3 separate regions of the Homo sapiens genome follow, and regions 1 and 3 are each linked to region 2. Evidence: fine-mapped expression QTL. A gene starts in region 2. Each other region holds a variant in brackets. All regions are shown on one strand. Distances are from middle to middle. Region 1 overlaps PACSIN2 (protein kinase C and casein kinase substrate in neurons 2). Region 2 holds the start of PACSIN2 (protein kinase C and casein kinase substrate in neurons 2). Region 3 overlaps PACSIN2 (protein kinase C and casein kinase substrate in neurons 2).

The links. PIP is the estimated chance that this variant, and not a neighbour inherited with it, causes the effect.
Region 1: its variant is fine-mapped to the expression of PACSIN2 in nucleus accumbens (GTEx, PIP 0.97).
Region 3: its variant is fine-mapped to the expression of PACSIN2 in whole blood (TOPMed, PIP 0.91).

The regions. Positions count from the first base shown.
Region 1 is chr22:42,941,149-42,951,420 of GRCh38, reverse strand. The region is part of intron 1 of PACSIN2 (protein kinase C and casein kinase substrate in neurons 2); the gene reads left to right. Among named protein-coding and RNA genes, the nearest start is that of PACSIN2, 69 kb to the left of the region's middle. RefSeq lists enhancers at 2,970-3,861, 3,862-4,754 and silencers at 6,245-6,324, 9,284-9,510. The variant T/C (reference allele first, on the strand shown) is at 3,942.
Region 2 is chr22:43,010,796-43,021,067 of GRCh38, reverse strand. It overlaps PACSIN2 (protein kinase C and casein kinase substrate in neurons 2), which reads left to right and starts at 5,919. Exons shown (of 11, transcript NM_001184970.3): 1 at 5,919-6,047. RefSeq lists enhancers at 5,432-5,631, 5,614-6,317 and silencers at 5,752-5,941, 5,952-6,001, 6,122-6,191.
Region 3 is chr22:42,874,989-42,885,260 of GRCh38, reverse strand. It overlaps PACSIN2 (protein kinase C and casein kinase substrate in neurons 2), which reads left to right. Exons shown (of 11, transcript NM_001184970.3): 6 at 700-875; 7 at 2,957-3,077; 8 at 6,092-6,213; 9 at 8,251-8,373; 10 at 8,928-9,124. LOC101927393 (a long non-coding RNA gene) reads right to left here. Exons shown (of 3, transcript XR_001755575.2): 3 at 9,731-10,272. Among named protein-coding and RNA genes, the nearest start is that of ARFGAP3, 23 kb to the right of the region's middle. RefSeq lists enhancers at 2,244-2,817, 2,818-3,392, 3,393-3,967. The variant C/T (reference allele first, on the strand shown) is at 5,295.

The DNA of each region.
Region 1 (10,272 bases), 70 kb after region 2:
AATTTTAGGTCACAGGAGGGAGAGGGTCACCCAGGAAACTAGTGTGCACAGAGAAGAGGAGGCTGAGCCCTGGGCACCACGGGTGTGCACAGGGTGATAAGGGCACCAATTGGGTGCTTTGCAGGACTGTCCGGAATTACTTGTCTAGAGAGAATGCAGTTAATACTGCAGGCCGGTTATCGTGACTAGAAGATAAGGCTCGTGGATTCCTTTACCAGAAAAGCTTGGATTTCATGCTTACCTAAAGGGAAGGTGCCCACGTGCTGCCTTATCTTCCTTTTGAATTTTCAAAAGCAACTCAATCAGTGTATTCTTATGGCAGAACAATTAAGTGATACAGATATGCAAAAGCCCAGACTTTCATGTTCCACCACCCAGAGATGTTCATTCAAGACTCAGGACAACCTTCCCTGACCACCATATGTCCAGGTAGACCCTGTCACTCTCTGTCCCCCACTTGGCTTCATGCTTTCCCCCAGCCCTTAATGCTGTCTGCCGCTACATTACCTACTGGTGTGGCTTTGAAATCCCCTGACCCCTACTGGAATATATACAGGGGCCTTGTCACTTCTACCCATCCCGGGACCCCACAGGCCCAGCGAGGTGCCTGGCATACGGTAAGTAAGGCTGCATTACATTTCATTGAATGGAAGAATTCACATTTTTGGTACATAGCCATCTGGACTTTTTTTCTAGGTAATTACCCACTCTTAAACATATATTTTTAGATAAAGCCCAAGTGTTCAGCTTTTTAGACGTAAGAATGCTACTTATGGCGTTGAATGTTACTGTAAGCTAACTTTGCACTAGTTGGCTGGGGCTGCTGTTTTCAGTCAGTTTCAGCAATGGTGGCTGCACAGGCCTTCAGAGCCCTTCCTGAGCCTGTGCCTGGACAGCAGCGTGAATCGTCAGTCCACCTCATGCTGTCTCCTAGGAGGCTGTGCAGCTGCAGGCCTTCTTTCCTCAACCAAAATGCTGTGCCTGCCCACCTGCCCACTCCCTTCCCTCCCTCCCTCTCAGCCTAATCTGGTATGACTTTGTCTTATCTTTCCTAGTATTTAGACAATTTGTTCCTTTGTATCTTGGAGGATTGTTCCAGGACCCTCCAAAGGATACCAAAATCCATGGATGCTCGTCTCTGATATAAAATAGTGTTGTATTTGCATATAACTTATGTATACTCTTCAGTATTCTTTAAATCATCTCTAGATTACTTATAATACCTAATAGAATATAAATACAATGTAAATAGTTATACCGTATTGTTTAGGGAATAATGACAAGCAAAAAAAGTCTGTACATGTTTAGTACAGATGCAGCTACCCACTTCTTTCCCCCGTATATTTTCGATTCCTGACTGGTTGAATCCACAGATGTGGAACCCTTGGGTATGAAGGGCTGAGTGTGCTGTGAGCTCCTGGACCGCAGGGCCTGCATGGTGTTATTCACTTGTTTTCATTTCCATCCCCTAGCTCTTAGCAAGGTTTCTGGCACTCAGAAAGTAAATGTTTTTAGAATATTGGGAGAGATAGATGTAAAATAATTTGTAAAATCAATTTCCTTGGCTTGATATTTACTCAGTTTATTAGAATAAATTAAACATTTTATTGAAAATATTTAAGAATTTGGGACACAGGCTATGTCTTGAGACAGCCAAACTGACAAATTTTTATGAAGGACAGGTTCTTTCTGCCTGTGTGTGTGTGTGTGAGAGAGTGTGTGTGAGTGTGTGTGTGTGAGTGTATGTGTGTGTGTAGTGGGGGTATTGGGTATTGTAATGAAGTCAAGAGAGTAACCAAGACATTTTCTTCAGGGCTTCTCAGATAATATTATTGTATATTGTAATTCGGCATTTTATCATAAATAAGAATTGTCATTAATTTTTCCCCTTTATAAGTGGTCACTGGAAATGTTTATTAGGCAGCTAGCATCACAAAATGTGTGTGTGTGTGCGTGCGCGCGCGTGTGTGTATGAGGCTTAACGTTGAAGGTCTTTGTTTTGTGTTTCTAGAGTTCTCAGTGGCACAGCTGAGAATGGGTGTGTAAGTCCTGCTTGCCAAAGCCATATCCTCCCTGTGTGGGGTGGGAGTTGCCAGAGAGGCCAGGAGGAGTCATACTAGGAGCAAGAAGGCTGGGAAGGCTGGAGACTGACATTTTCAGGCACTCACATACAATGTGTCATTTAAATTCCTACTCTGTGTAGGTCAGCCACCTTTATTCCCATTTTGCTGGTAAGAAGGTAGCTTAGAAGTTAAAATGTGCACCTATTATTTAAGAAATGTTTTGTCCTTATAGAGACAGGATCCCACCTTGTTGCTCAGGCTGGTTTGTAACTCCTGGGCTCAAGCAATCCTTCCACCTCCACCTCCCAAAGTGCTGGGATTACAGGCGTGAGCCACTATGCCTGACCCACTCCCCTTGTTTAAGGGAAACTTTTGCTATTAATTTTATGCTTGATTTAAGCCTATTAGTTTCAGATTGTTGCCTGACAATTGAGTTCCCTGTTTGTTTTTCCAAATTACTGGCTAGTTCATTTTATGTGAACTTTTTTTAGAAATAAAAGCACTGTCAAGTTAGAATTCATTTATCAGTTTGTCACACGAAACTGGCTCCATATTCTTCTCTACAGTAGAGTGCTTTGGCTCTAGCTGATACCTTTGAATGAAATAGAATATTTTCTTGAGAAAGCGGCACCATAGTTGAGTGCATAGATGCCCAGAAAATATTTGAAAACCAAATCCTCTCATGGTTTGTACTTAAAATTTTTTTTTAGAGATGGGATCTCACTGTGTTGCCCAGGCTGGAGTACAGTGGCTACTCACAGGCACTATCATAGCTCACTGCAGCCTCAAACTCTTGGGCTCAAGTGATCTTCCTGCCTCAGCTTCCCAAGTATCTGGGACTATAGATAGTCATGTGCCACCACACCCAGCTCGTGTGGCTTTTTAAACTTCAAAGGCACATATTTATAGTACTGGTTGAGAAGGTATTTAGGTAGTTCACTTCTAGATAGCGCTTCTGATGGGTGTGACCTCTTCTTGTCCATGCTTACCTAGCATTCTTATGGTGGGCTTTTATCAGGACATTCTACTTTTTATTGCTGGTAGGTAAATGGAGCAGAAGTCACTCTTGTGGTGGAGTAACTAGTGACTTGAGCTGGTGTCTGATCTTCAGCGCCCTGCCATTTGTCAGTCCCCTCTCCCCTCCTTCACAGCCACAGCAGCTTCCCAGGGTTTGCCCTCCAGGACCAGCGGGACCCTGCACTGGGCTGGTTTCTAACTCCCCTTTGTCACACAGGTTCCTCTACCTGGGATGCCTTTCCTTGCTGCTCCTGCTGAAGAATTCCCACTGAAACATCAGCCCTGGGCACCCTTTCTGGACCCTCTATGTGTCCCCGTAGCATGTTGTGCAGAACTGTTTCCTAGCTCTTGGCCGCTGTGTTGGAGGAGGTTGTTCAAGTGTCCATCGACCCTGTGAGAATGGAGTGCCCCAGTGTGGGGGCACCTGGCTTACGGGCTCAGGAGCTGGGCTGCCGTGGAGCCTGGCCCCAGTCACCTTCTCCCTGGCCAATGCTTGTGGAAGGTCCCCATACTCCAGGCACTGTGCCAGGTCCCAGCCGGATGCCATTTGATCCGTGCAACCTGTCAGGCAGATTGGATTCTATTTTACCCATGAGCAGTGTCAGGCGCAGAGCTCTTAGGTATTTTGCCTGAGGCAGCTGGATCATTAAGAGGTCCCCCCCCCCACCCCCAGGGGTCTTGTGAAGACTCATAGATGCAGATTTCAGAGACCTTCTAGATTTGTGCATCCAGGCTAGCGTGTTCTTTGGTGTTGTCCCCTCTTGCTGTCTCTCATATTCAGCTTGTTCAGACCAGGGCTTCAGCTCCTCTTGAGGATTCCACTCATCAGACTGTTGGGTAGGGAAGAGCCTCTGAAACGGC[T/C]GCCTCCAAGCATGGGAAGAGGCCGCTCCTCTTTTGTGGACAAAGGGCCACAGAGGCCCTTTGTGTGACAGGAAGTCCTGCTTCTAGAAGGGGCTGCCTGAAAGTGGAGGGGTTGAAAGAAGCTGAAGCGTTGACCTGGGGCCACTCTGACTCATGCATGTTGTCAATAATACTCTTTGTCTGTCTTGGGAACCTGGCACAGCAGACCTCGAAGGTGGCCTGGAGCATTCCTCTTCTCCCTCCTTCCTGCTCACTCTGCCGCCTGTGAATGCCCCTATTTTCTGACCTGAACAAAGGGCAGCCTCCTGACCCATTCTATATTTTTTCCTTCTATTTATGCCAGGAGAATCTTTCTGTCTCATCTGGGCCTGTGTGAGTTTTCTTTTTTAGGGTTTAAGTGCGTCTCTTGAGTTGGAAAACTTGCAGCTTAAGGGAGAGCTGTCCCACTGGGCAGGTGCCTCTGACGGAGAGGAGGCGTCGTCGGGAAGTATGTGGCCGTGGCTGCTCTGGCATGATCCTGAAGACTGGCACGAAGGGGAATGGAGCCGCACAGAGAATTTCAGGCATCAGAGGGGAAGCGCAGGTACCCGGACCCACGGCCCAGCTCCCTGCAACATGGTCCACATGTCTCCTGTATTTGTGGCCATCTGTCAGTTGTTAAATACTGTGGTTAGGATGTGAGGACACCAGAAGCGAGGGAAGTGGTGGCAGAGATGAGCTGACGCGTCCTCATGTGCTCTGAAGTCCTGATCCCCAGCTGGACGAGAGAGGATCATGTGTGTGCGCATGCCTGTGTGAAGGGATCCTAAGATTATGTTGGAATAACACTGCATCAGTCCTGGGCAGGCAGCTTTGTGTGTTGTGTAACTGGGGCTTCTTGCTGTGGGGACATGGTGGCAAATCAGTGAGCACTTGTTCTTTTTGTTTTTTGAGACAGAGTTTTGCTCTTTCCCCCAGGCTGGAGTGCAGTGGTGCGATCTCACTGCAACCTCCATCACCTGGGTTCAAGTGATTCTTGTGCCTCAGCCTCCCAAGTAGTGGGTGAGCCCGTGGTACATTGCTGCTCTCGCCAGGCTCAGAGGCCAATGTGTGCCTCCTTCCTGGATGCAGTGGCAGTCAGTGAGTGCTTCCACTCCTGCCCCCAGGGACAAATCCTTTGGCTTTATTAGCTTTGTCCTTACTTCCCCCTTAGACTGTGGCAGGTTTGGGGTACCCATACTTCTGGAGACCCTACCCTGGATTATATTAGGTATGTTATGCTCACATGCAGTTTAAACACTTCTTTATGTTATAAAAGTAATTGGAAGGATTCTTATTATTTTGCTTTTGAAACTATTTGGCTATGAGAAGTTGATTTCTCCTCCACCTCCTCTAATTCATTTGTGCATTTGTTCAGAGGGAACAGTGTGTGTGAAGGGGTGGAGCTGATAGGAGTGTGGTGCTTGTGTTGGTAGACACAGGTGATTAACGGTGGCCAGAGCGTGTATAGTGTGGCCAGGAGTGTGGTGTGAGTGGTGAGGCTGGAGGAGCAGTAGTTACAGCCTGGAGGCCCTGCTGGCTTCGGGAGGAAGTAGGGGGAGGAGTTTGAGTAGAGGCAAAACCTGATCTTTCCAGAAGACATTCCAACCACCATGGTAGAGTCACAGTAATGTCATGGAGAATGAAGGGAGTCGGGGACTAAACAAGTGGCTGCAGGTTAGTTAGGACGTTGTTAAGGATTAGGCAGGAGGCAATGGTGGCCTTAGCGAAGGTAGCTATCATCATGGGGACAGAGCCAAGTGGGAGGATTCAAGAGATATTGAAGAGCTGATGTAGTCCGGTCTTGGAAGCTGATTGAATGTGGTAGTGGTGAGGGGGGTTGGGTGTGGGAAGAAGAGGAGTTTCTGGCTTGAGAAGCTGGGTGAATGAATGGTGGGACCATTTCTGACGTAGAAAACCCAGGAACAGGAGTGGGCTCATAGGGAAGGGGATAGTTTGCAAGGACTGTGTGATGGCCAAGTGGAGGCATCCAGTAGGCAGAGATGCGGGTCTGGGCCAGACAGCAGATCAGGGGGCTTGAGGTTAAAGGTGGTTTGGTGTGTGGGCACAGAAGACGTAAGAGAGAGGGCCTGGGACAGAACCTGGGGAGCGCCAGCAGCCAGGAAACAGGCAGAGGAGGTTGAGAGAAGGCACACTGCAGCCACTACAGAAATGAGCTGGTGAGTGTCAGCTCCCTCCCCAAAGACTCCTCTTGCCCTCGTCCCCCACTGATTTTGCTTCTGTCAGCTTGGTAATTGCCGGTGCGTACATCTAGTCACTGTGCAGACTCATTTGAGCATCTACCTCATGCTAAGCACTGGGGATACGGAGATGACACAGCCCTTGCCTCTTTTTTTTTTTTTTTGAGACGAGTCTTGCCCTGTCGTCCAGGCTAGAGTACAGTGGTATGATCTTGGCTCACCGCAACCTCTGCCTCCCAGGTTCAAGTGATTCTCCTGCCTCAGCCTCCTGAGTAGCTGAAACTACAGGGGCGTACCACCACACCTGGCTAATTTTTGTATTTTTAGTAGACATAGGGTTTCACTGTGTTGGCCCGGCTGGTCTTGAACTCCTGACCTCAGGTGATCCACCCATCTTGGCCTCCCAAAGTGCTGAGATTATAGGCGTGAGCCACCGCGCCCAGCTACAGTCCTCACCTTATAAGTTGATGTGTAGTGGATGCGCTGTGCCACTCTGCCTTTTTTGCTTATACCCAATTTCGGATGGAAAATAGCTCACCTGCTAGTTCTCTGTAACGGATGTGTTGTGTCCTTTCTGTCAACTCGTCATTGTTTTCTTAGCTTTGAGCAGCTGACTCGTTTCCAATTTTTGCTGTTATAAATATTGCAGTGATGAACATTTTGTCCAAGCTATTTTTTCTTTGAGTTTATTTGCTTGGGGCATGTTCCCCAGAGTGGGACTTAAGGGTCAGAGGTTGGTAACTGTTATCTGCCTTGTTCTGTATTTTCAGATTTTTCCATGAAGCCTATTAGCAATGTTAGAGTACATTTCTGTTTTCCTGTAGCCCCACCAAAACTGGCATTGTCATATTAATTTTCCTTATTTTACAAGTTATTTCCATATTTTAAAGGAAGTTGTGCTTTTTTTTCCTGCATGGGAATTTGTTGTATTATATTTAGCTAGGTTACATTGCAGTAACAAGCAAACCCCAAGTCTCAGAGACTTAGCCTAACACAAATGTCTTTCTCGCTTGATCTGTGTGTCCCTTGTAGGATGGCTGGGGGTGCGGTTCCACAGAGTCCCTCAGGCCAGGCTGATTAAGGAGACAGCACTCTCTGAGAGCTGCCACTCGAGGCCTGCTCAGTGGACAACACAGTAGACAGGAGAGGCTGGGGGCTTTGTGTGGACTTTTCACTACTGATGTGGCCAGGACTACCAACACAGTCTGGCTTAGCAGGTAGAACTTAGTGAGCATTCCTGTCTCTGCCCAGCCATCTCCTCTTCTGTTTGTTCCTCTCCAGCAACTTCTTTGTCCAGTGGAATTGGATCCTCTGTCTTCATATCAGCTCTTAATGTATTTTAGGTAATAAGATTTTTATCAATTGTGTCTTTTTCTTTCTTTGCTTTCTATATTGTATTGTGCAAAAGTTTAACGTAAGTTTTGGACACATTCATGTTTTCCTCTGATACCTTATTATCACAAATTTCTTTTCTCAAAGCCAGAGAATAAGCTGCTTTTCTTTGAGTTGCTTAAAATGGATTTTATTTGGCTCCTTATGACACTTGAAATTCATCAAAATATATAATGTCAGGTGGTTTTAATCTAAGTTAATTAGGTCCTTGGTGATGCCTGTTCTGCAACATTAAAACAAAACAAAAGAAAGAAAAAACACCCAACCCCAAGCAACACCTCTTCATGACAGAAACACTCAGCAAACCAGGAACAGAAGGGAACTTGACTGGATAAAGGGTATTAATCAAAACTTCCAGGGCTGGCAGTGAAAGACTAAAAGCTTTCTTCCTACAATCCAGAAGAATAGGACCTTGATGTCTGTTCTCACTCCTTCTGCTCAATATTGTACTGGAGAGTCTAACCAGGAACTTCGAAGTTAGACAAGAAAACAAAAGGCATACAGATTGGAAAGGAAAAGGTAAAACACTCTCTGTTCAAAGATGGCATGATCTTATATAAAGAAAATCATAAGGAATCACCAAAAAAACTCTTAGAATTAATATACAGGTTCAGCAAGGTTGTAGGATATAAGATCAATATACAAAAATAACGATATTTCTATAATCTAGCAAGGAATAATTCAAAAAATGGAATTAAGAAAACAGTTTCATTTATTATAGTATATAAAGAATAAAATAGGAGTAAATTTATGAAGAGAAGTGTAAGACTTATATTCTGAAAATTACAAAACATTGTTGAAATAAATTTAAAAGGACCTGAATAAATGGAAAGAGATCCTACATCCATGGACTGGAAGACTTCACATAGTTCAGATGGCAGTACTCCTCAAATTGAGCTACAGAGTCACAGCAGTCCCTTTCAAAATCCCAAAGCAACAAGCCAATTCTAAAATCCCTGTGGAAATGCAAGGGACCAAGAATAGTCAGAACAGTTTTGAAAAGTCAGAGAACAAAGTTGGAGGGCTCACACTTCCCAATTTACAAAAATGTATAAATCTACAGTATTCAAGAAACAGTGTGGTGCGGGCATAAGGATAGACATGGAAAAATGAGATAGAGTCAAGAAAACAAAACTAAACCCCTACATTTATGGTCAGTTGACTTTGGACAAGGATGCTAAGCCAGTTCAATGGGGGAAAGAAAAATCTTTTCAACAAGTGACGCTGGGACAACTGGATATCTGCTTGCAGAAGCATGAATTTGGATCTCTGCCTCATGCCACATATAAAACTTAACTCCAGATGGATCAGAGACCTAAATGTAAGAGCTAAATCTGTAAAGCTTTTTTAATTAAAAAAACGTTTAAAAAAATTAGTCATAATAAGTGATGTAAAACTCTTAAAACATAGCATAAGTCTTTGTCACCTTGGATTAGGCAGTGTTTTCCTAGATATGACACCAAAACAATCAACAAAAGAAAAAAGTGGGTAAATTGAACTTCATAAAAATTAAGAACTTTTGTGCTTCAGAGGATGTTATCAAGAAAGTAAAAAGACAACTCAGAATGGAAGAAAATAGTTTCAAATCATATATCTGATAAAGATACCTTGAATACATAAAGAACTCTTGGGTGGGTGCATTGGCTCACATCTGTAATCCCATTACTTTGGAGGATCACTTGAGGCCAAGAGTTTGAGACCAGCCTGAGCAACATGAGACCCTGTCTCTACCAAAAAAATTGAAAGAATTAAAAAAAAAAAAAAAAAAGAACTCTTAAAATTCAATAATAAAGGCCGGACACAGTGGCTCACTCCTGTAATCCCAGCACTTTGGGAGGCAGAGGCGGGCAGATCACCTGAGGTCAAGAGTTCGAGACCAGCCTGGCCAACATGGTGAAACCCTGTCTCTACTAAAAATACAAAAATTAGCTGGGCGTGTTGGCCCATGCCTGTAATCCCAGCTACTCAGGAGGCTGAGGCAGGAGAATCGCTTGAACCCAGGAGTCAGAGGTTGCAGTGAGCCGAGAATGCGCCACTGCACTCCAGCCTGGGTGACAGAGTGACAGAGTGAGACTCTGTCTCAAACAAAACAAAACAAAACAAAAACCCCAAACTCAGCAATAAGAAGACACACCAGTTTAAAAAATGAGCAAAGGATCTAAACCGACGTTTCTTCAAAGATAGTATACAAATGGCCAATAAGCACATGAAAAGATACCCAATATCACTAGTCATTAGGGAAACACGAATCAAAATCACAATGAGATATCACTTCCCACCCACTAAGATGGTTACAATAAAAAAGACAACATGTGTTGGTGAGGATATGGGAAATTGGAACTGTCACACACTGCTGGTGGGAATGTCAAATGATGCACCTGCTTTGGAAAGCACTCTGGCTGAATGTTGGAAACTCCTGACTTTGGAAGTTTCTCATTATGACCCAGCAGTTCTACTCCTAGGTATCTACTCAAAAGAAATGAAAACATCTGTCCATACAAAGGCTTGTACACAAATGGTAATAGCAGCACTATTAATAGCGGAAAAGTGGCAAACAACCCAAATGTCCAGTCACTTGGTAATGGGCAAACAAATTGTGGTATATTCATACAGTGGAATATTACTTAGCAACAAAAAGGAGTGAAATACACATGCTGCAACGTGGACGAACCTTGAACCTTGAAGACATTCTGGAAAAAGTGAAGGAAGCCAATCACCAG
Region 2 (10,272 bases):
TTAAAAATTAGGAATGCAAAAGGTTTATGGAAAAAAAATAAAAAAAGAGAAAATATTTGTTATAAAGTTAATCAGGAAGGGCAATGTTACTTTTTTGATGCATTTACATTTTGAGACTGCTGCAATGTTTTAAAAAGTAGCCTCATTCACGCCTGTAATCCCAGCACTTTGGGAAGCTGAGGCAGGCGGATCACGAGGTCAGGAGATCGAGACAATCCTGGCTAACACACGGTGAAACCCCGTCTCTACTAAAAAATATAAAAAATTAGCCAGGCGTGGTGGCAGGTGCCTGTAGTCCCAGCTACTCGGGAGGCTGAGGCAGGAGAGTCGCTGGAACCTGAGAGGCGGAGCTTGCAGTGAGCCGAGATCGCGCCACTGCACTCCAGCCTGGGCAACACAGCGAGACTCCGTCTCAAAAAAAAAAAAAAAAAAAGTAGCCTCAGTATCTCATTTTACCTTACACTAAGGCAATCTGGATTCACAGCAGTTGCATCCAATAACTTTAAAAAAAATTAGTTTTACAATTGCAGGATGCCTTTTAATTTATCTAATTAGGAGCTGGCAAAAGGTAAGATGATTGGCTGGATTCAGAATGGAATCTGTTGGCTTCTGGGACCTCCTCATCCTCCTGCATAGCAAGGACTCAAGGAGGGACTATTGCCGGAGTTTATATCTTCCTCCCAGAGTAGAAAATACTTTAAAATGTATCACATAAAGCCTGGGCATTGTTAGGTTTTCATTCCAAATTTTAAAACAGTTACTTTGAAATTGTTGACACTGGCCCACTTTGGTACAAATGGTAACACTGTAAACCCGAATTCTCCAAATGAGCTTTTCCACTTAGTAAAATAAGATAGAAGTAGAACCAACTGAAGAACTTGCAAAAAAATTGAGTGATCCCATGGCCGGGCGTGGTGGCTCACGCCTGGAATCCCAGCACTTTGGGAGGCCGAGGTGGGCAGATCATGAGGTCAGGAGATGGAGATCATCCTGGCTAACACGGTGAAACCCCGTCTCTACTAAAAAAATACAAAAAATTAGCTGGGCGCAGTGGCACGCGCTTGTAGTCCCAGCTACTCGGGAGGCTGAGGCAGGAGAATGGCGTGAACCCGGGAGGCAGAGCTTGCAGTGAGCCGAGATAGCGCCACTGCACTCCAGCCTCGGCGACTGAGTGAGACTCCGTCTCAAAAAAAAAAAAAAAAAAAAAAGAATGGATTGATCCCAATTCAGGGCACCTGGGCAGTGCCCAGTGCCCACTTGGGAAGCCCTGTTTGTATGCTGCTCCATACCTACCTTTGTCTGGGAGCAGGCTCCAGCCGGGCATGGCAGGAGTGGAACATTGTACTTGCTGGTACAATTTGACGTGAGCAGACATGTGCAGCCAGAATGGAACAAAACAAAACAAAGCCAGGGAGATTGGGGTAATTGCCTCCTAATCAATGACACATTTACAAAGAATTCAGATCTTTACACGTACTTGGCAGGTGAGCATGTCATTCAGAGGTATGTTCAGAAATGTGTTCCTCCAGCCGCCATAGTTAGTGCTTTGATATGGCCAAAATATTAACAGTTGGTGCACAGCACGTGTTCTTAGGTTTGTTTTCCATTTATTTATTTATTTATTTATTTATTTATTTATTTATTTATTTTTGAGACAGGGTCCTGCTCTGTTGCCCAGGCTGGAGTGCAGTGGTGCAATCTTGGTTCACTGCAGCCTCAATCTCCTGGGCTCAAGTGATCCTCCCACCTCAGCCTCCTGAGTACCTGGGACTACAGGCCTGCACCACCACGTCTGTCTAATTTTTTTTTTTTTTTTTTTTTTTTTTGAGACCAGGATCTCATGATGTTGCCCAGACTGGTCTCCAACTCTTGGACTCAAGTGATGCTCCCGCCTTGGCCTCCCAAAGTACTGGGATTTTAGGCGTGAGCCACCACGCCCAGGCTTTTCTTTTAGACACGATTAAAAATTTAAAAAAGTGAATATACCCTGAAGCACTTTTACAAAATCAGGGGTCCTTGAACACACTGAACAATGACCTGTGCCAGGCCCCATGCTGAATATTGCAGAGCGAACTCACAAATCCTCACAGATTCTCTAAGCTAACAATCACTAGGTTTTGTGATTATCCCCGTTTTACAGTAGGGAAAACCAAGGGCTGGAGTAGTGAAGTCACTTGCCAGGGCCGCAGAGCTCCTTGCCGCTCGGCTGCCTTACTGCCTTGTTTCCCCTGGCTTCTCTTTGTGCCTGCAATGCAGCCAAGTGGAACCCTCCTCTCTTCCTGGACAGGAGGAGTTCTTGCCTCCTGATCTTTGCTCTCTGTAATCTTCCACTCATTTTGGCTCAGGTAAACAGCACTGTTTTCAATACCACTGCACCCTCTTCTGTTCTAAACTCTATGTCCTTGCCAGATCTTTCCAGGAACATCAGCAGGACCCAGGTCCACCCCGAGCCACCTTCCCTGCCTGGCACGTTCTAAATATTGGAATTATTGAGTGAGTGAATGTCTGTAACTGATTTTGATTTTTTTTCTTGAAAGACATGTATCACTGTACAATCCATAAATCACTGTACTTATCACACTGAAAATACACGTATCACTGTATTTTCAGCAATACAACTATATCTGGATGTTTTAAATTTTTTGAGAATATGATATTCTCTGTGCAAGTATGTTTTAGCCCAGACTGTCTGTTTATCCAGGCTGCTTAGTGGGAAATGGTTAATAAAGGACTAAACTAAAGCCGGTCAGTCTCAGTCCCAGGCACTCTGTGGCAATGGTCACATTTTGGGGGAAGGAAGGAGCAGCTGACAAGGCATGACCACATGTCCACCGTTCAGACACAGCATTCACAGCCGTGTGCCCGGAACAGCTCTCCATGCTTTGACTCCTTACCACAGCCCTGTTGCTCTTCCTAATCCCCATATCACGGAGGGGACACAGAGGTGCAGAGAGCTGCAGTGACTGGCCCAAGGCCCCTTGGCTGAAAAGGGGTGGAGGCAGGATTGGGCTCCAGGCCTGTTCAAATATGACTGAAGGAGGAGGCTGGATGGAATGTTGTGAAATGTTTGTGGGGAACAAAGTTGGGGTGCTCACATGTGGCAACGGGGAGCTATCTTTGGAAAAATACCCTGATAAGCTGCCAGGACAGAAGGTATAAGGCCCAAAGAGTTCAGGCAATGATGTCAAGCTGCTAGGTGCAAGACAAGGAAAGGAATTTTGTGTTTGTCCTGAGAAGGAGGAGGAGAGAAAAGAAGAGGGGGAGAGTGCAGAAAACCAAAGGCATGTGAAGTGGCCAGAGTGTGGCATGGGTCACGTGACCAGGTGGTGACTCCTGGGGCCAGGCAGCCAAAAAGGCTCACGAGGCATCCTGTCTTGTTGCTGGGCAGTGCCAGGCTTGATGCCTCTCTCCAGCTTCCAGTCTTCAGGAACCCCTGCTAGACTCAGCAGTGCTTGGAGTGCAGGGGGATTCGTGCAACTGGATAAGGGGATGATGGTGAGACCAGTGAGCATGCGGTGTGTGGAAGAGCAGGAGGCCTGATGACAGACGCTTGTTCAGAAACCTTGGGAGAGGCTGCGTACAGTGGCTCGTGCGTGTAATCCCAGCACTTTGGGAGGATGAGGCAGGAGGATTGCTTGAGCCCAGGAGTTCAAGACGAGCCTGGGCAACATGGCGAGATTCTGTCTCTACAAAGATTTTAAAAAATAATTAACTGGGCATGGTGGTGCGCACCAGTGGTCGCAGCTACTTGGGAGGCTGAGGCAGGAGGATGGCTTGAGCCTAGGAGGTCAAGGCTGCAGTGAGCCATCATTGTGCCACTGCATTCCAGCCTGGGCATCAGAGTGAGACCCTGTCTCAAACAAACCAAAACAAAAACCCCCAAAAATTTGGGAGAGGCTCTGTATTTCTTTTTTTTTTTGAGGCGGAGTCTCACTCTGTTGCCCGGGCTGGAGTGCAGTGGCGCGATATCAGCTCACTGCAAGCTCCGCCTCCCGGGTTCACGCCATTCTCCTGCCTCAGCCTCCCGAGTAGCTGGGACCACAGGCGACCGCCACCACGCCTGGCTAATTTTTTGTATTTTTAGTAGAGACAGGGTTTCACCATGTTAGCCAGGATGGTCTTGATCTCCTGACCTCGTGATCCGCCCGTCTCGGCCTCCCAAAGTGCTAGGATTACAGGCGTGAGCCACAGCGCCCGACAAGGCTCTATATTTTTATAGGGCATGGAATTGCGATGTAAGCGGAACTTACCCAGATATGAAAGTGCTGAGAGCTGATGGCTGAGTTCTATCTATACAAATGGTCCACAGGTATTGTGGGTGGCAAAGAGGTCCCTGTTGGCTCAGTCCTGGAGAATGAGGAGAGACTTCTTGGCAGTGGTTTGTCCTGGCACTGTGTGTTGGTTTTTTTTTTTTTTTTTTGAGATGGAGTCTCGCACTGTCGCCAGGGCTGGAGTACAGTGGCGTGATCTTGGCTCACTGCAACCTCCGCCTCCCAGGTTCAAGTGATTCTCCTGCCTCAGACTCCCAAGTAGCTGGGATTACAGGTGCATGCCACCACACCCAGCTAATTTTTTGTATTTTTAGCAGAGACAGGCTTTCACTGTGTTGGCCAGGCTGGTCTCAAACTCCTGACCTTGTGATCTGCCCGCCTCGGCCTCCCAGAGTACTGGGATTCCAGGCGTGAGCCACCGTGCCTAGCCGGTTCTTTTGTTTCTTTCTCAATTATTGTCATAAGGACAATGCCACAGAGCAGTCTAGAAAGTAAACAACCACTAGATTTCTTTGTGGACTCTTTTCTCATACCTATCTATATGTAGCAGCAATTCTACAGTTTCTACCATTTTGTATCTAGCTTTTTCTTTTATTATTATTTTCTTTTATTTTACTTTTTAGAGAACTGGGTCTTGCTATGTGGCCCAGGTTGGCCTCAAACTCCTGGGCTGAAGCGATTCTCCTGCCTCGGCGTCCCAAGAAGCTGGGATTCCAGGTGCATGTCACCATGCCTGGCTCTATCTGGCTTTTTCTTTTAACGTTTTAGTTTAAGCATTTTCCCATAGTGCTACACAGTCATCATTATTATTCTCAAGGGTTGGGCTGACCTGGGTTTCTAATCCTGGCTCTGCCATTTACTCTCTTTACTCCACATCACCCCCAGCAAGTTACCTGGCTCACCCCTCACCTGGGGTTCCTCTCACCATCCTCTCCACCTGGATGACATGAAGCAGTGCTTGGACAGCGCGTAGGACAGTGCTCAGGAAGTGCTCTCCATTTTCCTTCAAGAGTATTTCCCTCTGCAGAACGGGGCTAATACCCTATCATGCAAGGTGATTGTGAGAATTGGAAAGAATGCGTGTGCATTGCCTGGTGCCTTGCCATCCAAATATATTTTATTAGAGAGAGCAGCAACATACGCCCCCCCAACCCCCCGTTTAAACTAAGCGGGTCCACGTGGAATGACGCTTTTGGCGCAAGTCGGAGGAGCTCCTAACGACATTAGCTTCTTTGAGTCCCTTGGGAGAGGAAACTTTCTGAAAGACTGTAGGATTACCTTCCCTGAACTTCCGGTCAGGTGCGGTGCTGCCCTGCCGCGCCCTCTTACCCCTGGATGCCGACGAAACCGCAAAACTCCAGCCCCGGGAAGCGCGTCTCAAGGACCACCACCAGCGAGCGGCTTTGGGAGAGTAATCTGCGCCACCCTCGCAGCCCATTAAATAGGCACTCCCCGTTTGATTGACAGGAGAAGTCACCAATGCGCGTCCTGGGGCTTTCCCTCGTCCTCACGCGGGGTGAGCCGCCTCTCTACTCATCTGGCCCAATCGGGGGCGCCGGGGAGGCTGTGGGGCGGGGCTCGGTGTCCGGTAGCCAATGGACAGAGCCCAGCGGGAGCGGCGGGGGCGGTGCGGTCGCGGCTGGCGGCAGAAGCGGCCGCAGGGGTCTGGGCAGGGCTGGGCAGTGCTGCCGGAGCAAAAGCGGTAGCGGGAGCCCGGCCGGAGCTGGGTCTGGAGACGCCGTGGCAGCCTGAACGGAGTGTGCGACGGATTGGGAGGTGAGTGGCCGCCGAGGTCAGGGGTCGCCGCGACGGTTGGGGCGCCGCGGGCGGGACGCGGGGGCGCTGGTCCGCGGCCGGGCCCGCGCCCCGTCAGGGCCGCCGCGCCGAGCTCCGCGCCCTGAGGGAAGCGGGTCGGGCCGCGCGGAACTTCCTGTCTCTGTGGGAGGGGGCGAGTGCTCGGGGCCCCGGGGGGCGCCTGGAGAAGACATCTTGGGGAGGACGAGGGCGAGTGGGGTCGGCTCGGGGAAGGGGCGGGGGCCCATGGGGGCGGCGCTGTGGGAGCGGGGCAGTTTTCCGGGGTCCGGGGCCTGCTGGAGAGGGAAGTGCAGGAGCAGGGCCGTCGGGGGTTAAGAGCTGCTAATGAGTGGGGGAGGTGTAGACAGCTGCAGAAGGGGGAGCTGGGGCGACTTTTGGAGGGACGCGATTTAGGAGAAAGCTGGGAATCCGAGACGTGCAGAGGTTAGGCGAGGGTGCCGGAGCAACGCTGGAGGGAAGGCGTGGCTGGGACGCGCCGGTGAGAGGGCAGGGCTTAGTCCTGGGGTGGCCTGGGGGGCGACGCAGGACACACGCGGGTGCGCTGATTTCGGGCGCTTTGATGAGCGGCCTCCATTTCCTTCCTTCCCACCCTCCGTGTCCCGGGGGGGGGGGGGTGGTGTGTGTGTGTCTGTGTGTGTGTGTGTGTGTGTGTGTGTGTGTAGGGCGGGGGGAGCAAAGCCCTTACCGCAGCACGTCCTAGGGCTGGGGCCAAGCAGGAGAGGCCGGGGAGGTTTGCCCTTGTGACCCTCCTCAGAGTTTCCCCAGACTCACTGAATCAGAAATCCGAACTCCTTACTCCTCTAGGGCTTTCAAGCCTGGCCAGGCATCCTGAGAGGTCCGCAATTGGAGAGGTAGTGATTGCTGCTGCTGTTGAATTTCATTGATTCATTGGGTTTCGGCTCCATCAGAGAAGGTCGATTTTCTTTTCAGAAGGAGTTGGTTGGTCAGGGGAGCAAGCTGTGCTATTGCTTTGGGGCCCACACGGCTGCAGCCTTTGACGTATAACAGGACCTGGGGATGCCACTCTTGGCTTGGGTGCCTGAGGGAAGGTGGCCTTTGGCTGGGTGTGTGCACCATTCCTGGATCCTGTCTTCTCTTTTTCCCTCCGCCTGTCCGGTGTTTTTGTGGTTAAGGGGGTAGGCTGCTCAGAGTCTCCAGGGCTACTTGGTACACTGTTTACCAAATACTGCCTGGCTGTCTTGATGAAAATCAGGAAACCAGCTCAAAGAGTTTGAACCTCAGCTGCAGATGGTGAGCTCACACCTTCTTCCTTCCCTCCTTTTCGGTGCCTTCCTCTGCGGTTATTCCCGTGTGCTGAAGTTCTGTTTTAACCCTCCTGGGATTGCCAGGTTGGAGCCCAGGGCAAGGGAACCGACCAGGCAGGCAGTGTTGAATGCCAGCCCTCCTGTTCTTGCCCAAGATGTTGTCGTTCCACTTGATTCATGAGCCTGCCTGCATGCAGCCTCCTCATGGAGACATTGAAGCTGTGCCAGTGCAACTTGGATCTCTCTTGATTCACCTGGAAAACTTTCACTTGTGTGGACTTAAACTTAATTCTAGAGTTTGGTAGCCTCTTTGGTGAGGTTATGCTGGTTGAGATATGAGGCCACTACATCAAAAACATTGGTGTGTTTTTCTTTTGACAATAGACTTAAAGCTTTAAAGAAAGTGGCCATTAGGCTGGTGATATTTATTACTTGGGAAAGTAACATAACACAGAGAAGTAGATGGGTGATTAGGTCTGCACTCTTTATCCACTTTTTGGGAGAAGAATAACAACTCATTTGAATGGAAATGGTATCCTTAGCTCGTGCTGCTTTGGGACTTGGAACTTTATCACTTTTAATCTCAAATGTATATGAAGTTGTGATGTGATATTTAAATAATCTAGGCTGGGCGGGGTGGCTCACGCCTGGGATCCCAGCACTTGGGAAGGCCGAGGCGGGCAGATCACCTGAGGTCAGAACTTAGAGACCAGCCTGGCTAACATGGTGAAACCCCGTCTCTACTAAAGATACAAAAATTAAGGCCGGGCGTGGTGGCTCACGCCTGTAATCTCCAGCACTTTGGGAGGCAGAGGCGGGCGGATCACCAGAGGTCGGGAGTTCGAGACCAGCTTGACCAACATGGAGAAACCCCATGTCTACTAAAAATACAAAATTAGCTGGGTGTGGTGGTGCTCATACCTGTAATCCCAGCTACTTGGGAGGCTGAGGAAGGAGAATTGCTTGAACCCAGGAGGCGGAGGTTGCGGTGAGCCAAGATCCGGCCGTTGCACTCCAGCCTAGGCAACAAGAGCAAAACTCCTGTTTCAAAAAAAAAAAAAAATTAGTCTGGCGTAGTGGTGCACACGTGTAATCTCAGCCTCAGCTACTTGGGAGGCTGTGGCATGATAATTGCTTGAACCTGGGAGATGGAAGTTGCAGTGCACTGAGATCACACCACTGCACTCTAGCCTGGGTGACAGAGTGAGACTCTGTTTAAAAATAAATAAATCTAAAAGTATGCATATATTTAAAAAAAATTCTGGATTTCCACCAACATAGCATTCTGCAGGGAGATAACATGAACTTTTCCCTAATCCTGGATACCCATCCACATCTCTGATGGCCAGGCATTTCTGGAGTGGGAGCAGAGGGGCATTTGTCCTTGCTTTTTTTTTTTTTTTTTTTTTGAGAGAGAGTCTCTGCCCAGGTTCAAATGATTCCTCTGCCTCAGCCTCCTCAGTAGTTGGGATTACAGGCGCCTGCCACCTTGCCTGGCTAGTTTTTGTATGTTTGTATGTATGTATGTATGTATGTATGTATGTATGTATGTATGTATGTATTTATTTATTTTGAGACAGAGTCTCGCTCTGTCGCCCGGGCTGGAGGCAGTGGTGCGATCTCAGCTCACTGTAACCTCTGCCTCCCAGGTTCAAGTGATTCCCCTGCCTCAGCCTCCTGAGTAACTGGGACTACAGGCATCCACCACCACGCCTGGCTAATTTTTGTATTTATAGTAGAGACGGGATTTCACCGTGTTGGCCAGTATGGTCTCGATTTCCTGACCTTGTGATCCACCTGCCTTGGCCTCCCAAAGTGCTGGGATTACAGGCACCTGCCACCTTGCCTGGCTAGTTTTTGTATTTTTAATAGAGATGGGGTTTTACCATGTTGGCCAGGCTGATCTGGAACTCCTGACCTCAGGTGATCTGCCCACCTCAGCTTCCCAAAGTGCTGGGATTACAGGCGCCTGCCACCTTGCCTGGTTAGTTTTTGTATTTTTAATAGAGATGGGGTTTCACAGTGTTGGCCAGGCTGATCTGGAACTCCTGACCTCCAGTGATCTGCCCGCCTCGGCCTCGCAGATGTCCTTGCCTTTTGTTTCTTCTCTATACCTTGAAAGTCTGTGCTGTGTTAAGGGCGTCATGCTCAGGCTTACTGATTCTGAAGGGGTTATCAGTGGATGATTCCGGATGTTGTGGAATATCAAACAGATCGAAAAGTTTCTTTAATAATAGTGATGGCACCTTGTGTTTAGAGTTCGCAGTGGCATTTACCAGATGCTCTCTGGCCACCTTCATGTGAACCTCCCAGCTGACTCGGGCCTGCTTTATCTGCCATCAGATTGTAATGGCAGCTTTGTGGAGGCCGCCCTGTAGATTATGCGATTAATGACCACATTCATGTGAGCAATAGTGCTGGCTTAGTTTTTTTCCAGTTAGGTTGTTTGGAATGGTAGCTGCATACCTGAGGGCAGTGCAGCAATGCCTTAGTTACGAAGGCAGTTTGCATTCCACAGGTAGAGTCTTTCCTTATGGCCAGGGCACTGATCCCTCACATACCAGAAAGTATCATTCGTCCCTGCCCCAGACAGACTCCAGATGCGTCCCAGTGGTGGTTCTTGGGATAGTTTTGTAGGAATTTCTGCAGAATTTTAGTGTTCAGATGAGTATGCTCTGTCTGTGGACTGGAGACAGGCTTCAAAGAATTCTCAAATTATTCTGCACAATACATCATTTTTTGGTATCTCTGCAGTTCCAAAGGTAACTACTTGAGGGACAGTGGCCACCAAAGAGCACAAGTTTTGACATTTTGATGAAAAGCACACATAAAACAAATAAAAACCACCTTTCCTTAAGTTACCTATTGAATTGTGCTTATTCCCATAAATGCATGTTCATCTGTTTGCTTAATAAAACTTA
Region 3 (10,272 bases), 140 kb after region 2:
CGAGGCACATCCCCACCAGATGAATGTGCCCACTTTAGCCATGTCTTAGGAATTTCACACGTTTTCTAGCTGCCCCTGGATATTCTTGAGATAGGCCACACCTGCTTTTTAACATTTCCTGCCTTGTAAAACCCCTTCTTGGGACAATCTGGGAGGGAGCAGCTGTGTGAGGGGGATGGAGTGGGCTGAAAGACAAGAGAAGGAGGACTTTTTTTGAATGCCTTCTTCCTGCACCCCATCATGTACATATCAGAACACTGTGAAGGAGAGATGTCCTCATCTGATAAAGGACAGTGAGGCTCCAAGAGAGCTGCAGGATTCAGCCCCAGCCCCACCTTTGCTGTGGGCCAGATCTGAGGCTTGAGGGTAGCCAGGCACAGCCCTTCCCCACAGGGAGAAGAGGACATGGGCGTGTGGCACGCTCAAGACCATACACACTGAGTTCTGGGGAGACTGCCCTTTGCCGGCATCTACCTGTCTGGGCCTTGCTCCAGCTGAGAGACAGGGCAGATGGCAGGAGTGTGATTCACCTTGCAGGAGTGGAGGAACTGGGACTTGAACTTGAAGTCTGTCAGAATCCAGAGCTCCTGTTTTTTCTTTGCATTTGGAATCTGGGAAGGCCTGAGACACTCCAGGGGCAGGGTGAGCCAAGGGCTAAATGGAAATGAACCTCTGTCTTGTGCCTGGATTTTCCTTTAGACCAAAGAGAAGTATGAGAAGTCCCTGAAGGAACTCGACCAGGGCACACCCCAGTACATGGAGAACATGGAGCAGGTGTTTGAGCAGTGCCAGCAGTTCGAGGAGAAACGCCTTCGCTTCTTCCGGGAGGTTCTGCTGGAGGTTCAGAAGCACCTAGACCTGTCCAATGTGGCTGGGTAAGTTTCCTTTGAGCTAAAACACACACGTCATTGAAGTCAACGGAAAGTGCTTTTGAAGCAAACTCAGATGCTGCTCCCAGGTTTGGGATGGCGCGTTCATCAGGAGGTCTCCTCACCGCCCTCAGGGCCTCCTGCTTCTTTGTAATCTGGATGGCAGGGAGGGCCCCTCTGCTGAGTGTTTCTGCAGCTGCAGGCATGGCCGGCTGGACCTCTGGAAGGCCTGGTTGACCCGGCCAATTGCTGGCCCAAGCAGATAAGGCCGGGCCCACTCTGCCAACTCCATGTACAGGTCTGGGTGGGAATGGAGATTGCCCATTCTGGGGCCACAGCTAGGACCAAGGCAGCTGGCATATCTTTTCTTTTCTTTTTTTTTTTTTGAGACGGAGTCTTGCTTTGTCCCCAGGCTGGAGTGCAGTGGCGTGATCTCAGTTCACTGCAACCTCCTCCACCTTCTGGTTTCAAGCAGTTCTCCTGCCTCAGCCTCCCGAGTAGCTGGGATTACAGGCATGCGCCACCACACCCAGCTAATTTCTGTATTTTTAGTAGAGATGGGGTTTCACCATGTTGTCCAGGATGGTCTCGATCTCTTGACCTTGTGATCCGCCCACCTCGGCCTTCCAAAGTGCTGGGATTACAGGCGTGAGCCACCGCACCTGGCCGCAGCTGGCATATGTAAGATCCACTGGAGGTGAATCTGGCATTTCTGGGCTGGTCGTGCCTGGGACAGTCTTTCTTTGAGGCCCTTTGTGATCAGGTGACTGCTTAGTGGCTCTCAGCCCCCAGGACAGCACATACCCTCTGAGACTTGGTTCTGAATTGTGATATGGAAGCTGTGCTGTTTCTTCTGTGCTTTCCTCATCTTTGGTTCTGTGATGCCTTCACCAGGGCAGAGGTCCCAGCTAAGTCAAGGACGTGGATTACTGTCATCCATCTAGCAGAACCGTGTAGGGATGCGTCACGGGTCAAGGCTTGCTGTTAATAGGAGACACATTCCGTTTGTCTCCCTCTGTGTAACAATCATCAAAAGCAACAGTTACTGCACCGCTGCTGCTCTGCCACCATTCCATTTTTATGATAGTCTTGTAAAGTGGGTGGCACTGACCCCATCTTATTGATGAGGAAGCTGAGGCTGGGTGAGATTAAATGACTTGCCCGAGGCTGCTCTGCTGGCAGGAGCAGGGTGAGGCTGGCCTGTGTCAGGCTCTTCTGCATGTGGAGTGACTCCCATCGTGTGGATGCTTGTCTGTCTCTGTGTCTGGATTTCCCCCTTTTAATACAGGCACCAGTCATATGGATTAGGGCCCCTGCTAGTGACCTCATTTTAGCTTGATTACCTCTATAAAGACCTTATTTCCAAATAAGGCCACATTCCGAGGCACTGGGGTTTGGACTCCAGCATGTCTCCTATGAAGGACACAATTCAACCCTTGATGGAGGGGATCATGCCCACTCAACGGAGGAGGAAACCGAGGCCCAGAGAAAGTACATGACTCACCAGCCATAAAGATTATAAGTGAAAATATCAGGTCCAGCAGTGATCCATACTCTTCCCTGGCAGGGCAGCTTCCTAGGAAGGTGAGCCGATGATGGCTGCCAGGCGGAAGGCAGCCCCCACCCCGTCTTGGTGGTGGGTGTGTTCAGCACCGGGTCATCTTCACGCTCTGCATTGGCAAGTCTGGGTATAAAGCTTTTCTGGACAGAGATGAGGAAGGAGGGGTACTTTCTAACACCCTCCAGTTTTCTCTTCCTCAACTCTGGGCCTGGTGAAATGGGACCACACAGAGTGGTGGCCCACACAGCCCACCTGCTGGTGCCTTTTGCATATGTGACACAGAGCAGGGCTTAGTCATTGCCACCTGCTTGGCTGGTTTGATTTAAAGCTCATTTGTCAGGAGCCATCTGTGCACGTGGCGGCCCGTGACCTTCCACCTGAGCCAAGGGAGGAGTGTTCTGGCTCTGTCTGTGAAACCAACTCACAGAGGGCAGAGACCACGGGACCTGCTGTGGCTGGCACTGGGCTGGGACAAAGGGTAGCTGGCCCCTGCCTTCTAAAAGAGCCACGTTTCTCTCTGATTTAGCTACAAAGCCATTTACCATGACCTGGAGCAGAGCATCAGAGCAGCTGATGCAGTGGAGGACCTGAGGTGGTTCCGAGCCAATCACGGGCCGGGCATGGCCATGAACTGGCCGCAGTTTGAGGTAAGAGGAGGGTGTGCCCATGAGCTCATCAGCCTGGAAGAGGACCTGGGCCCACAGAGTTGCTAGATGATGTCTTTCTCATTCTAGACTCTATGTTAGTGTTTGCCCTGTTTATCAGGCAGCCTTTAGGCATAGCTATAGTACAGACCAAGTTCTGGCATAGAGTCCTGGGGGGCTGCAGGCATTACCGAAGGCCTTCTGAACCTCTCCTGAAGTCGCGGTTATGTCCTCTCTAGTTGGGAATGTTTGACTGTCACTTTTTGGCCACTGGCATTCCCTTCCTTCCTAGTCAGTCTCAGGAGCCGTAGGCACACAGGACCTCAGGTCCCTGACCCACCCTGTGGGATGGCCAGGAAGGGAGCAGCCACAGTGCTCCCCTCACGGTGGGCCAGGGGAGGGGAGGTGGTCTCAGTGGGCAGCCCTCCCTACCCTTCCAACAAAGGACTTTTCCCTACTCCAGGCAGTAAATTCAGTGAATCCTGATTCAAAATGAATGTTCTTCTTTTCCCATCATGTGGGTCTAAGCTTTCATTATCTTTACATTCGAAATGCAAGGGCCTGGGGATCTCAGGACTCACCTAGCCCTTGGATTGGTCACTAGGCCCCACCTGGCACCCTGAAGGCAGTGGGCAAAGGTCCTGGTGCCCCTGAGGCTTAAGCACGTGGCGTCAGCTGCCCCAGCAGGGATGCTGAGGGCGACTACCTCTGCTGTGGGCGTGGGCCTCGTGGCTTCCCCGACTCAGCAGCGGCCAGAGCCCGGGCTGCATTCAGATTCTGCTCACCTCTGACCACCTGTGGGAAGCTGAGCAAACTATTCGCCCTTTTTGTGACTCAGTTTTCCCACGTGTGGAATGGGAATGACAAGAGCACCCATCTCCTGTCGGGGGCTGTTAGGGAACATGGTGACTTTGTCCACGCAGGGCTATTGACCCAGGCCCACCACTCAGAAACCTCCTGGGCGCCTCATAGCCTGCAGTTTTGTCAGTCCTTACTCCTGCACTTCTTTTATGGCCCTTAACAGGAAGGTTTTTCCAAATGACAGTGTGGGCCCTGCTGCCGAGCACTCCCCTGCGCCAGCCCCAGGACTTGCTCCCAGTAGGAGGCAGTAGAGCAGCTGTGCCCCTTCCACAGAGGCACTGAGAGAGCATGGAGGGCCAGAGCCGTCCTGACTGGAAGCGGCCCTAGAGGGGACAGCACAAAGCCCAGCCTCTCCTCTGGAGCCACACACCAGGAAGTCTTGGCTGACGTGTTTTGTGCACAGCTGGGGTTTCAGACACAGCGAGGATTTGCTGCTCCCGGAGTGGCACAGGAAACCACCTGTGAAATTCGCCTGGGTCCCTTAGAGGTGCCCATTATACCCAAAGAGGGGCACAGTGGGGAGGACTATTTGACAGTCTGTCTCCTGGAGGGTGTCCCAGCCAGAGCCTAGGGGGTCCTTCTCTCTGTGGGTCCATGGGCTGGGAACCAGCCCCTGTGCATTCATTCTGCGCACATTTGCAGCTGTTACGGGACCATGCCTTTCTCTAATGCAATTCTTTGTTTTTATTTTTCATGCCACAAGGATGAAGTAAGTGTCTGCGTTCGGCTACCTCATAGAGTGCCATACGCCATGCAGGGTGTCTGTGGCCCGCATGGGTGGGTGTGCTGCCCCCGCTAGGCTCCTAGCAGTTCAGCTGAGGCTGCGCTGCTGTCAGGGGTATTGAGAGCCGGCCCTTCCCATCAGTGCCGGCTTGGTGTTGATCCCATTGGCCTTTGGAAGCCACCCAATCAGGATGAATTTATATTCAGAGGTCACTGTGGAGAACTCTGAGGTTCCAATTGAGTTCTCAGTCAATCTATTTTGGTCAGAAAATAATTAATAGATGAAAAGGTGACCCAGATTTGGGGTCGGGCCCAAGTCTGCCACCCACACTGCGTGGGCAAATCACATTGCCTTTCTGGGCCTCAGTTTCCTAATCTGACAAATGGACAGGTTAGACAGGATGCTTCTGAGTTGGCTTCCAACCCAAAAGTTCTGTAAGTACGTGTGAGCAGAGCCGTGGACTCAGCCACACCAAGTTTTAATCAGAGTTGTCTGGTAACTGGTGGAGATGGGGGGAAGGAGAGCTCATTAAACACCTGCGGGCATGCACAGACTCTTCTAGAAAATCAAGACACAGTCTCCATTCATGGTTTTGCCCTAGTCCATTTTCAGTGCGGTTGGTGAAGCCAGTTCGC[C/T]ACCCGAGAACTCGTGAGGCTTCCAGGAGGAGCGTACTCTGCTTTGCTTCGTTAGCCCCAGCATGTGCTCAGATCACAGAGGAAAAGTCCCAGGGCAGCAAAACACTGGGGAGGGCCCTGCGCTTTGGAGACTGAGAGTCTGCTTGCCTGCCCCTTCTGTCAGCGGGTAGCCACCTAGCCCTGGTTTTATTTGCAGTGGCTTTATTTGCACCTGGTTTTATTTGCACCTGCCTTTCCACATGGCAGGCTTGCTCAGGTCTCCGAAGCCAACTGTCTTGACCCTGTGGCCCAGGGACAATTTAGGGCATCGACGCAAAGGATCTTCAGCACTTCAGGACAGGTGCCTCAGAGGCTGGCTCCTGTCTACTTTGGGAGGCTCAGCAGACATCTGGGGAGGCCACAGGGGCCCATGCTGGCCTGAGGGGGCTGGGACTGAGAACCTTGGTGGGTGGGGTCAGGAACAGGAGGCCCCGGACCTTGCCCTGGTCCTCGCCACCCCCGCTGGTCCTCTGGGAGGTGGGCAGCATGGCCTGGGGGTGGTTGTAGAGGTGCAAGCCTCCAGATCCCCTGATGAGCCCCTGCTTTGAACAGTGAGGAGGGGCTCAGGTCGTTTGGGTTCATAAGTGGGGCATGGGGAGCCTGAGGTCTTCTGGGAAACCAGGGAGAGCTGGGGCCCTGAGTCTACACATCAGATGCACAGAGCCAACTGCAGGCTCGCTGGGCAGGAACTGAGGACAGACGTGGCTTCCAGCAAGTAGTGAACCTTTGGTTTCTCTCCCTCGGCACCTGTTGCCTAGGAGTGGTCCGCAGACCTGAATCGAACCCTCAGCCGGAGAGAGAAGAAGAAGGCCACTGACGGCGTCACCCTGACGGGCATCAACCAGACAGGCGACCAGTCTCTGCCGAGTAAGCCCAGCAGGTGAGTGGGCGCCACCTCCATCCAAAAGAGGCCGTTCCATGGTGGGGGCCCTGGGCAATCTGCATGGTCCAGGGCAGCCCCGGCCTGGACACCTGGGAGGTTCCTGGGCTCCTGAGCTCTGTGGGCCGTGGCCCAGCCTGGACACCTGGGAGGTTCCTGGGCTCCTGAGCTCTGTGGGCCGTGGCCCAGGGGCATCTCCAGGGAAGGTCGTCTTCCTGCCTGGTGCCAGAGCTGCTGACAGATCCAGAGAGGGAGGCTTGGCCCTGAGCTTCAGACCTGAGTGGGGAGGAGCTGATGACAGGGCTGGCATTCATGTCCCCAGGGATAGCACCGCCCTGCCCGGACACTGGTGGAGGTGCCACCCTGGTTCCCTCAGGCAGCTGAGGTCCTGCCGAGGTTCATGCTCACTCTGTATTGTGTGCAGGCGCCAGTCGAGGGAGGGACAGGAGAGGACTGCCAGGCATCTCCTTTCCAAATTACCTCTTCACTAGGAGCATTGGTTATTTCTGACTTAGTCATTGGCTGAAAATGAGAGATATAAGGGTGGCACTGTGGTCATTAGAACCTTCTGGAAAGTGTGTGCTAGAGGAGGTCTTCCTATAGGACCTGCCCACAGGCCTCCATGTGACACTCAGTAATAGTCATTTCATACGGGGGCTTCCTAAGAAGGCTTAGCCCAGGTTCCCTTGGCCTTCCTGCAGCCCCAGGCACTGAAGCCCCCACCCAGGCTCCCCAGCAGGTGTGGCTGTCGTCATTCCGCTGCTTTGCACGCTGTCTGGGCAGGTGGGCTCGGCAGTAAGTGCCTGTCCCAGGGATCAGGCCAGCACCTGTATGCTTGGGGGTGGGAATGGGAAAGAAGAAACACTGCCTCAGAGGAGACCCTGGGGGCCCTGGGCTGGCCAGGGTTGCTGCACAATCCAGCCGCCCCCACCAGTGCCGTCTCACAACAGTCTGCTAGAGAAAGGTGCCAAGGAGGGAGGAGGGCCGGTGAGCTCAGACATGTGGCCTGGATATTGGCCTCCAGCAGGCCTAGGTCAAGTACCACTTGCCAGGCTGAAGTGGATGAGGCAGTTACTGGCCACTCAGGATCACCCTGGTGGCATTGGAGGCATGTCCTCGCCTCCCTTCCTTGGTTCTGGGGTGGTGGGTGCTCAGGCTGAGCAGTCCATCCAGTGCTTTGGGGGCCTGTGCCCTGAGGCCCTGGTCTTGGAAGTAGAAGGTGCTGCTGGCCAGGGTAGCCCGGTCCTAGGATCAGTTACTTGGTGGGGTGCCAGGGCCCTTGGTGCCTGTCTGATTGGATTGCTTGATGGTCTGCCTGTGGTCTTCGTAGTGTGTAACTCAGCTCCCGGCTCCCAGCCCTCAGGCAGAGCTTGGCCCAGATCTCTCTGGTTCCCACACTGGGCCTGGCAAACAGTAGGCAGTTGCACGACTGGATTTTCCCTCTGGAGCACCAAAGGAATCTTCTTTCTATCTAGAAAAGACGGTGCCGCAGGCCCTGGCCCTGATTTTGGAGGCTTCAGCTCCACAGAGCAGAAGAGCGAGCCCTGAACCCCTTAGTAGTCAGGAGGAGGCCGTGTGGGCTGAAGAGCTCAGAGCCCTCTCCCACTCATCCATGGGAGCCGGCCCCTCCCACACTGTCACTCTCAGAGGAGACCCTGAGGGGCTTTTTGACCCCCCCAGCTCACATTGGTGGGAGTCAGGACAGAGGAGAAGCCCTGAACCTGGAAACGACTTTTGCTCCAGCTGTGGCTTGTCACCCGCCCCTGGGCCACCCCAGGGCCCCTGTTCTGGACGGACTGTCTCCAGGTGCAAGGAAGGAAAAGGGAAACCAAGTCCTCTCCTAGGCTCCTGGACCGTGTTTCACAGCTGAAGTATTGCCCGCATTCTGCCATAGTAACCTTTCTGTTGAAACACCACGGTCCCCTCCGGTCACAGGAGGAGCTGATTTGTCTCTTGAGATCCTGCAGCTAGGAGTTGCCAGGACCCTCACGGGCCCCTGCAGAGCTGGGATCCCCTGAAAGCTCTCTCTCTCCATAGCACCCTTAATGTCCCGAGCAACCCCGCCCAGTCTGCGCAGTCACAGTCCAGCTACAACCCCTTCGAGGATGAGGACGACACGGGCAGCACCGTCAGTGAGAAGGACGACACTAAGGCCAAAAAGTTGGTGAACAAATGCTTCCTCTGCTCCCACCGCGCTCACTCTGTCTCTCTTCCTCTCTCTCTGTCCAGGGGTCTCACCCCTCGGCACTCGGCAATGCACGGAGCTCTGCAGGAAGTGGGCACCTGGCGTGCCGCACCCTGGCCCACTACCTGCTCTCTGGCACAGGCTCTCTGGCACCCCCATTCCTCGGGGAGGGCACAGCTAACAATCTTAAGTTGCTTTTTCTCTGTCCTCTGTTAACCCTTCAAGGCCCTAGCAGCACCATGACAGGAAAACAGACAACGCGCAGTCTGTGCTGGGGACTAGAGAGTGAGGCCCCAGGTTGGCCTCTGCTGTGGGCATCTCCAGCCGCCTGCCCCTGGAAAGCCTGTTGATGGCTCAGGATGAGTGTGGATGGCATGAACTCACACTAGCACTGGCTCCACCTGTGCTCCTTCGGAAGGAGCCCTCAGCCCTGAGCCCCAAGGCTCCAGTGCCCTCCCCTTGCGGGGCGGGGGCCTCACACCCTCTGCCGCCCTGTGCTGAGGGCCCTGTGGCCTCCCCTTTCTTGCAGTGTGAGCAGCTACGAGAAGACCCAGAGCTATCCCACCGACTGGTCAGACGATGAGTCTAACAACCCCTTCTCCTCCACGGATGCCAATGGGGACTCGAATCCATTCGACGACGACGCCACCTCGGGGACGGAAGTGCGAGTCCGGGCCCTGTATGACTATGAGGGGCAGGAGCATGATGAGCTGAGCTTCAAGGCTGGTAGGTGGGCTCCCCCAGCATCCAGGGGAGGAGGGCTTCCAACCTGCAGGCTGTGGGCGGTCTTTTTTGTTTTTTAAGTCTGGAAAAGTTCTTGCTAGTTTCACTTGTGAGTCACTGCAGGCCCTTCCCCAGTGCCCTGGCTTCATTGTCAAAAGCAGCCAATTGGCTGGATGTGGTGGCTCATGCCTATAGTCCCAGAGCTTTGGGAGGCCGAGGTGGAAGGATCGCTTGAGCCCAGGAGTATGAGACCAACCTGGGCAAAATGGCAAAACCTGTCTCTACAAAAAATACAAAAAATTAGGCCAGGCATGGTGGCTCACGCCTGTAATCCCAGCACCTTTGGGAGGCCAAGGCAGGCAGATCACTTGAGGTCAGGAGTTCGAGCCCAGCCTAACCAACATGGTGAAACCCTGTCTCTACTAAAAATACAAAAATGAGCCAGGCGTGTGGCGGGGCATCTATAATCACAGTTACTCAGGAGGCTGCGGCAGGAGAATCACTTGAACCTGGGAGGTGGAGGTTGCAGTGAGCCAAGGTCACACCACTGTACCCCAGGCTGGGTGACAGAGCAAGACTTTGTGTCAAAAAAAAAAAATTAGCTGGGCTAATTTTAGTGGCACATGCCTGTAGTCCCAGCTCTCTGGGAGGCTGAGGTGGGAGGATCACCTGAGCCCAGTAGATTGAGGTTGCAATGAATCATGATTGTACCACTATACTCCAACCTGGACAACAGAGCGAGACCCTGTCGCAAACAAACAAACAAATAAATAACCTGGGCAACAGAGCGAGATCCTGTCTCAAATAAATAAACAAACAAAAGTAGCAGATTAGCTGGGCGTGGTGTTGCATACCTATAGTCCCAGCTGCTTGGGAGGCTGAGGCAGAGGATCACTTAAACCCAAGAGGATACAGTGAGCCATGTTCATACCACGTACTCTAGCCTAGAAGAGAGAGCAAGACCCCATCTCTTAAAAAAAAAAAAAAGTAGGCTGGGCATGGTGGCTCACGCCTGTAATCCCAGCACTTTGGGAGGCCGAGGCACACAGATCACGAGGTCAGGAGATTGAGACCATCCTGGCTAAGAGTGTGAAACCCCGTCTCTACTAAAAATACAAAAAATTAGCCGGGCGTGGTGGCAGCCGCCTGTA